Linked DNA regions of Homo sapiens: region 2 is linked to region 1. Evidence: fine-mapped expression QTL. A gene starts in region 1. The other region holds a variant in brackets. All regions are shown on one strand. Distances are between the middles of the regions. Region 1 holds the start of CA6 (carbonic anhydrase 6). Region 2 overlaps CA6 (carbonic anhydrase 6).

Region 1 (4,384 bases):
CCTTGGCCCAGGCTTTCTCTGAGCTCCTTCCTGCTCCAGTTCCCCTCGCCTGGGCTCATCCAGTCCTCCCAGGCTTCCGTGACAGCCTGACATTTTAGTCTCTGCCTGCCTGCAGCTCCCTGATTCTTTCTGGGTCTCCCAATTCAGATTCCCAAGAAAAAATTCAGATGACTGAGTTTGTGTTTTCCTGCCAGTTTGATGTCAGGGGTCCTGCCTGGGCTTGTAAAGGGTCTTGGTCTCCTCAGCAGAGGTGGGGCCTTGTGATTTACAAGGTGGCCCTTTCCGCAGGGCTGGGAGTCAGCAGGTGGGCGTCACTGGTTTAGCAAGGACAGAAGAGTAGGTTTCTCATTTTTGCAAAGAAATGGTCCATAAGCTGGAGATTGAAGCATTTTTCCTCCAGTTCCCTCACTAACCAGCTGGGTGGCAATGATAAATCACTTCCTTTTCCTATAAAATGAGGGGTCTGAATAGATGCTAATGCCATTTGCTACACACCAGGCACTGCTCCAACTACTGCAGGCACATTTATTGCCGAATCCCCACAAAGGAGGTGCTATCACTAACTCCTTTTAAAGAAAGGAGGCGGCCAGGTGCGGCGGCTCACGCCTGTAATCCCAGCACTTTGGGAGCACGAGGCGGGAGAATCGCTTGAGTCCAGGAGTTTGAGGCCAGCCTAAGCAACATGGTGAAAACCTGTATCTACAAAAAGTACAAAAATTAGCAGGGCGTAGTGGCATGCGACTGTGGTCCCAGCTACTTGGGAAGCTGAGGCAGGAGGATTGCTTGAGTCCAAGAGAAGTGAGCTGAAATCGTATCATTGCACTCCAGCCTGGTGACAGAGAGAGACCCTGTCTCAAAAAAGAAAGAAAGAGAGAAAGAGAGAAAGAAAAGAAAGAGAGAAAGGAAGAAAGAAAGAGAAAAAAGAAAAGGAAGGAAAGCTGAGGCACAGAGCGCTGAGTTGCCCATGGTCACACAGTTAGCAGGTGGCACAGATCCTGTCTAGTTTCAGAATCCTTGTCCTTGAACATGCTTTGCTCTCTCTCTGAGATTCTTTCAGCTCTTGAGCTTTAGAAATGGAAGTTTCCAGCAAGTTCTTTGCAGCAGCTGATGTTCCCTATTAAATGACAGTGGGGAGTCTTAGAAGTATTCGGGAGGCCTACGTTCACCGCTAACATCCTTGTTGTGAAGGCCTGCTGACGTTTGCCATTCCAGGACCAAGTGGACAATGAGTTAAGCTAGGCCAGGAGGGGGTTCAGCTCCCCATAACAAGGCAGGGGTGGCCCTTTGTGTCCGGCAGCATGGTAGCCCCCCCGCAGGAGCTCCGGCTACCCTTTGTGTTTGACCTTGTGGAAGGGCATGGGAAATGCTGGCCTGTCAGCAGGCATAAACTCAAAAGTTTCTCCTTCAGCTAATTTCAGGGACTGTCTAGCCAAGTGAATACACAGGATTAGGTAATCCATGGATCCTGCGAGGGCAATTGGCTGATTGGCTTAGGTGTGCCCAAGAGCCCTGCAGGTGTCAGAACAAATCCATGTAGAAATGCAGACGCCCACACCAGCTTGAATGGCATAAAGGCACACATTGGAATGTGGCTCATGAGCTGGGACCCAGGATCAACCACTGGTTTAAGGAGAGGACCGTGAAATGTCCAAACATGGAGGCCAGGCCACCTCCCTGGATGCCTGGCTGAGGGCAGCCACATGTCTGCAGCGGTGGCTTGTGTCCATGACTGAGATGGGCAGGGTTTGCAGGCAGTGGTGATCCCATCAGCAGTCCCCAGATCTCTAATGTCAGGAGAAAGAGCATGGGAAGTCCGACGTCCAGGAAAGTCTTTCATCCTGCTTCTCCCTGCCTTGGGCCTTTTCCCATTTCCGCGGTCACCTGTCCACAATGGCTGCACTGTGTGGCTCTTCAGGTGTTCCTAAGACACTGAACAACCAAACCCATGGACTGACCGGATATGAAATTGACGTGGGAGGAGATCAGGCAGGTGCTGGGGCTGCCTGGCGCAATGCACGGAGCCAGAAGTGCTGTTATGGGGAGGGTGTTATTGTTTTAGTGGGTGCAGCAAAGGGTGGTTTAGCCAGCTGGGCAGATCAATTGTAAATTGTTATTTACAGTTTCTGAGCCTTTAAAAGAAGAGCTTCGCCGGAATCAGTCTTCATTACAGATGTGCAGCACCATGAGGGCCCTGGTGCTTCTGCTGTCCCTGTTCCTGCTGGGTGGCCAGGCCCAGCATGTGTCTGACTGGACCTACTCAGGTGAGCCCCTAGCTTCTGCATGCTCCCCCAGTTACCCTCACACCCTTACAACAGGACAAGTGCCCTTCTTCTTCTTCTTTTTTTTTTTTTTAGACAAAGTCTTGCTCTGTTGCCCAGGCTTGAGTACAGTAGTGTGATGTTGGCTCACTGCAACCTCCGCCTCCCGGGTTCAAGTGATTCTGCTGCCTTAGCCTCCCGAGTACCTGGGATTACAGGTGCCTGCCACCATGCCTGGCTAATTTTTGTATTTTTAGTAGAGACAGGGTTTCACCATGTTGTCCAGGCTGGTCTCGAACTCCTGACCTTAGGTGATCTGCCCATCTCCCAAAGTGCTGGGATTACAGGCATGAGCCATTGCGCCCGGCCAAGAGTCCTCCTTTAGGGCATTTCACAGGATGGCCAGGCAGCCCACTTGCCATATGTTGGGGGTCTGCTCATTGTGGCTTCAGATGTTACCTTTTCAGTGTCTCAGAAGGTATGGAGAATAAGCTGAACTTAAACTTCAAATAAGGAAAAGAAGGAAATAGCTTTCCCCTTCACAAACTCCTGATTTACTTACAGGCTTTTTGCTTTAAATTTTTTTCCATCCACAGTGTTGGCTGGTTCAAAAGCACACTCACTGCTTCTATTTGTAAAACCATTTGCTTTGTTGGTCCGTGTAAGTGGAAAACAAAGTTCTTAGAAAAGACTCTCGGTAACCTCACGGAAGGTGCTGTGGGGTTTGCGAGACCTTCTTTCTTGGAAATTTCATGGTAGGCAGTTTACCCAGAACATCTTGACATAAGGACCCAGTTCCCTTTGATCTGTGGGCTGCCAAAATGAGAGGTGTTTTTTTTTTTGTTTTTTTTTTTTTTTTGAGACAGAGTCTTGCTCTGTTGCCCAGGCTGGAGTTCAGTGGTGCCATCTCGGCTTACTGCAACCTCTGCCTCCTGGTTTCAAGCGATTCTCATGTCTTAGCCTCCCAAGTAGCTGGGATTACAGGCACTCATCACCATGCCTGGCTAACTTTTGTATTTTTAGTGGAGATGGGGTTTTACCACGTTGGCCAGGCTGTTCTCAAACTTCTGACCTCAAGTGATCCGCCCACCTTAGCCTCCCAAAGTGCTGGGATTACAGGCGTGAGCCACCGCGCCAGGCCCCAAACCAGACTTTTAAAATGTGAAATGTAAAATCCTGGCATTCAACATGGGTTCTGGTCCACATGTGAGCCAAAGCTAGAAGGCCGTGTCTGTGGACTTTGTGGACACTAAACAGCCCTTTCCAGGGGCAGTGAGGAGAGCTTCTTCCCGCATCCCCCTTCTTTCCATACGGGACCATGGATTGGGGCCCATGAGGAGGCTGGTGGCCGCTGGCTGATGCAGGAAGTGAGACAAACATCTGCTTCCTGCAGAGTCTGCCCCAGTTCAGCTGCTCCGGAAGCATTCCTTCAGGGTGAACGGGATGATCTGTTAAGTCAAGGGCAACGGAATTAGGGACATCCTGGGAGGTTCAGAAAGTCCAGCCAGCTCTGAACAACCGCTCTGTTCCTGAGGACAGTGATCTTACACATGGCAGTGCCTCGGAAGCCTGGGGCATTCTGCTTCACTTGGCCAAGCAGTGCAGGCAGGTGGTTCAGAGGTGAAGGAAGAGAGAATTCAGACAATGAAGTCCTTGTCCTTCCCAGGCTCTGCCCAGCCTCTGAGACAGTGGGCTTCCTGGGAAACTACTAGGGGCTCCAGGAGAACTTGAGAGTAGCTTTTGTAAATGCCTTCCAGGGAAACCTGAGAGATGTTCCAGTATTGACAGTGCCCTGGGCCAAAGCATCTTGCTCTGAGAAGGCGTTGTGCTCCAGGCCAATTGCCTTGATTACAAACCAAAAAGCGGTGAGGGCCCTAGTACAGACACCTTTTTTTTTTTTTTTGAGAGTTTCACTCTCGTTGCCCAGGCTGGAGTGCAGTGGCGCGATCTCGGCTCACCGCAACCTCTGCCTCCTGGGTTCAAGTGATTCTCCTGCCTTAGCCTCTCAAGTAGCTGGGATTAACGGCATGTGCCACCATGCCCGGCTGATTGTTTTTTATTTTTAGTAGAGATGGAGTTTCTCCAGGTTTGTCAGGGTGGGTCTCGAGCTCCCAACCTTAGGTGAT
Region 2 (4,384 bases), 20 kb after region 1:
TCTCCTGAAGCCCCTGTGCCTGGGCTCCAGCAATTCCCCTGGAGCTGACGCTCCCACTCCCACTCCATTGAGAAGACAGAAGCCACAGGCCAGAAACACTCCGCTCCTTAACCCACGTGCATCTGGACCAAATTCCACATCCCCTCTTCAGCTGCAACGGATGACAAATCCCTGCTCTTGTCAACACCACCCCTCCCACGTGGGGCCCAACCCCACTCCTCTCCCATGCTCAGGGCCTCCTTTCCTGCTATTCTCTCCCTGGTCTTCTGCATCGTTGATTTCTCTCTCTCTCTCTCTTTTTTCTTTTTGGAGATGGAGTCTTGCTCTGTCACCAGGCTGGAGTGCAGTGGCATGATCTCAGCTCACTACAACCTCCGCCTCCCGGGTTGAAGTGATTCCCCTGCCTCAGCCCCCTGAGTAGTTGGAATTACAGGCACACACCACCATGCCTGGCCAATTTTTTGTATTTTAGTAGAGACAGGGTTTCACCATGTTGGCCAGGATGGTCTCGATCTCCTGACCTTGTGATCTACCCGCCTCGGCCTCCCAAAGTGCTGGGATTACACGCATGAGCCACCGTGCCCGGTCTGCATCGTTGATGTCTTACTCTTTATTAAAGCCTCCTGCTCAGCACACACATCTGCCCTAATTCCTCCCACCTCCAAACACAAGCAAACAAACGTTATCTCCTGACCTTACCATTCCCCAGCTTCCCCCAGTTCTCTGGCTCCCCTTGAAAAGGTCATAGAATAGTCCTGTTCTCCATTCTCACCCACCCCACCCTGAGCTGGCCCCAATGCTCCACGGAGCCGGAGTGACGGTCAGATCTATGGGCCACTCTTCTTCTCGTCTTAGTTTACCTTCAAAGGGTGGTCTGGCGCGCCCCAGCTCTGCCCTCTCACTCTCTTTCTGGCTCCTGCCCTAAATGTTGGGTGGAGTCAGGCTCTGTCTCATCTCAGTGACTCCACGCAGTCCCACAGCCTGAATTAAAACTTACCACTTAAGGCTGGGTGCGGTGGCTCACACCTGTAATCCCCTCACTTTGGGAGGCGGAGGCGGGCTGATCACCTGAGGTCAGGAGTTTGAGACCAGTGTGGCCAACATGGTTGAACCCCGTCTCTACTAAAAATACAAAAATTAGCCAGGCATGGTGGTGCACGCCTGTAATCCCAGTTACTCGGAAGGCTGAGGCAGGAGAATCGCTTAAACCCGGGAGGTGGAGGTTGTAGTGAGCTGAGATTGTGTCGCTGCACTCCAGCCTGGACGACAGAGCGCAACAACATCTCAAACAACGACAACAACAACAAACTTACCCCTTAAACCATTTTAAATGTACAGTTCAGTAGCATTAAGAACATTCACAGTATGATGCAACCATCACCCCGCTCCATTGCCGGAACTTTTTTTCGTCTTCCTAAACTGAAACTCTGTACCCATTCAACAGTTACTCCCCATCTCCCCTTCCAGCTTCTGGTAACCACAGTTTCTGTCTCTAAGAATTTGACTATTCTAGGTACCTCATATAAGTAGAATCAAACAGTATTTGTCTTTTTTTTTGGTCTGGATTATTTCACTTAGCATAATGTCTTTTAGGTTTGCCCACATTGTAGCATGTTATCAGAATTTCATTCCTTTTAAAGGCTGAAGTGGCTGGGCGAGGTGACTCACGCCTGTAATTCCAGTACTTTGGGAGGCCAAGGCTGGCAGAGCACTTGAGGTCAGGAGTTTGAGATCAGCCTGGCCAACATGGTGAAACCCCGTCCCTACTAAAAATACAAAATTAGCCAGGTGTTATGGAGGGTGCCTGTATTCCCAGCTACTCAGGAGGCTGAGGCGGGAGAATCGCTTGAACCCGGGAGGCAGAGGTTGCAGTGAGCTGAGATTGTGCCACTGCACTCCAGTCTGGGTGACAGAGTGAGACTCTGCTT[CA/C]AAAAAAAAAAAAAGGCTGAAGTATATTCCATTGTGTGGATATATGATATTTTGTGTATCCATTTATCTACTGGTGAACATTTTGGTGGCTTCTACCTTTTGGCTATTGTGAGGTAACGCTGCTATGAATATAGGTGTACAAGTATCTCTTTGAGTCCCTGCTTTCATTTCTTTTGGGTAGATAGGAGTAGAATTGCTGGGTCACATAGTAATCTATGTTTTTTTAATTTTAATTTTTTTTTGTTTTTTGAGACAGAGTCTCGCTGGGGCGGGAGTGCAGTGCCTTGATCTCGGCTCACTGCAACCTCCGCCTCCCAAGTTCAAGCGCTTCTCCTGCCTCAGCCTCCCGAGTAGCTGGGATTACAGGCACGTGCCACCATGCCCAGCTAATTTTTGTATTTTTAGTAGAGACGGGGTTTCATCATGTTGGCCAGGCTGGTCTCAAACTCCTGACCTCAGGTGATCCACCCGCCTCGGCCTCCCAAAGTGCTGGGATTACAGGTGTGAGCCACCATACCTGGCCGTATGTTTATTTTTTGAGGAACTATTATACCATTTTCCGTGGTGGCTGCATCATGATTCTGGAATTCTTGACTTTCACTTAAATATATTAGAGTTACAAAAATAAATCTCTACCACAGAGCCCTTTTGGAGGTTATATCTTGAAATCTTCCAATAATAATCAAACTTAGAACTCTTTTGCCTACTCATGGGCTTATGCACTCTGAGACATTGTGGCCTTGGTTGAACAGGCCTATCTACGTATGTATCAAAACTATGTTCTCTGCCTTTAAGAAGCGCAGAAGTGCTCAGGGAAAGTGAAGCAAAATCCAACTCAATCCTGTGTTGCCTTGAGAGTCTTGTGCTGAGCTCAGGGGCTCAGTGTTGTTGACATGAATGAAACAAGGACCTCTCTAGAGCAGGAGCAGGTGTGGCTGCTGCAGGAGTTTTGCAGGCCTGGTGGAAGTGGCCCCACCCTACGCCCCACCTGTGGCTGGGCTTGGTTTCCAGCGGTTGTGGCAGGAAGAGCTCAGGACCAAATGCCTGTACCTGGACCCTGGCTTGGTTCTGATTCTGCATTTATTATTTAAAAAAATAATAAAAAAAACAACTTATTGTAGAGACGGGGCCTCCCTGTGTTGCCCAGGCTGGTCTTGAACTCTTGGCCCCAAGCAATCCTCCCGCCTTGGCCTCCCAGAGTGTTGAGATTACAAGCGTGAGCCACTGCGCCTGGCCTGATTCTGCATTTACAACTGTTGTCTACCCACTTCTCAATGAGCCCAAACCAAGGCATTTTGGTCTTTCTTCAAGGGCACTTACCCAGAAGTCTCCAGGGGCCATATTTATTTCTTTCATTGATCATAAAATGTGTCCTCTGCCTAGCCATGATAATGGTGACCGCAGCAGTTACACTTAGGAGTACTTCCCTATGTAGTGGTTCAATGCCAGCTGCTTTCCAGACGTTATTCCTTCTTACCCTCACAACAATCCTGCTGATTATTCCCTTTCTACAGATGAGAAAATGGCCGCAGGGTGAGCACCCGGCCAAGAGCACTCAGCCAGGAGCAGGTGTCTGAGTGCGTCTATCCCCAAAGTCTCTCCTCTCAATCCCTTCCAGGAAGAAGTAAACTGGGAAATTGTTTCTTAATCATCAGCTTCTATGTTCTGCTGAACTCAAGAGATTGGAACCTGGCGAGGCCTGGGCCTGAGCTGTCCTCCCGAGGGGCAGCGCTGGTCCCTGACATTCTGTTACCTTCTGTCTTCTTGGTCAGGACAAAGAACAACCCTGACTGGCCTTGACGTTCAGGACATGCTGCCCAGGAACCTCCAGCACTACTACACCTACCATGGCTCACTCACCACGCCTCCCTGCACTGAGAACGTCCACTGGTTTGTGCTGGCAGATTTTGTCAAGCTCTCCAGGACACAGGTAATGTATGGTATCACTTTGCCGAAGTCTTCCCATTCGATTGCCTGGTTAACAAGGGTTCTCCCCAGCATCTCAACGAACGTCAACAACTAAGGGGTCCTACAGTATTTTCTGTGTGCAGGGCTACTGTGCCTCGTCTAGCCAACCTTTTTTTTTTTTTTTTTTTTGTGAGACAGAGTCTCGCTCTGTCACCTGGGCTGGAGTGCAGTGGCACGATCTCAGCTCACTGCAACCTCCGCCTCCCAGGTTCAAGCAATTCTCCTGCCTCAGCCTCCCGAGTAGCTGGGACTCCAGGAGTGTGCCACCACGCCCGGCTAGTTTTTATTTTTAGTAGGGACAGGGTTTTATTATGTTGCCCAGGCAGGTCTCAAACTCCCAGGTTCAAGCAGTCTGCCTGTCTCAGCCTCCCAAAGTGCTGGGATTACAGGTGTGAGCCACTGCACCCGGCCATCTCCTTTTCTTAAACTTTTCATTTCCTTAGAAAAAGGTGGAAAAGACCCCTGCTCAAGGACACTCACACTCCAA

The links. PIP is the estimated chance that this variant, and not a neighbour inherited with it, causes the effect. A credible set is the group of variants that fine-mapping cannot tell apart.
Region 2: its variant is the best candidate, but not a certain one, in a credible set for the expression of CA6 in CD4 T cells (BLUEPRINT, PIP 0.54).

Annotation. Positions count from the first base shown.
Region 1 is chr1:8,943,705-8,948,088 of GRCh38, forward strand. CA6 (carbonic anhydrase 6) reads left to right here and starts at 2,164. Exons shown (of 8, transcript NM_001215.4): 1 at 2,164-2,261. The coding sequence starts at 2,183.
Region 2 is chr1:8,963,958-8,968,341 of GRCh38, forward strand. CA6 (carbonic anhydrase 6) reads left to right here. Exons shown (of 8, transcript NM_001215.4): 6 at 3,702-3,859. Among named protein-coding and RNA genes, the nearest start is that of CA6, 20 kb to the left of the region's middle. The variant CA/C (reference allele first, on the strand shown) is at 1,929.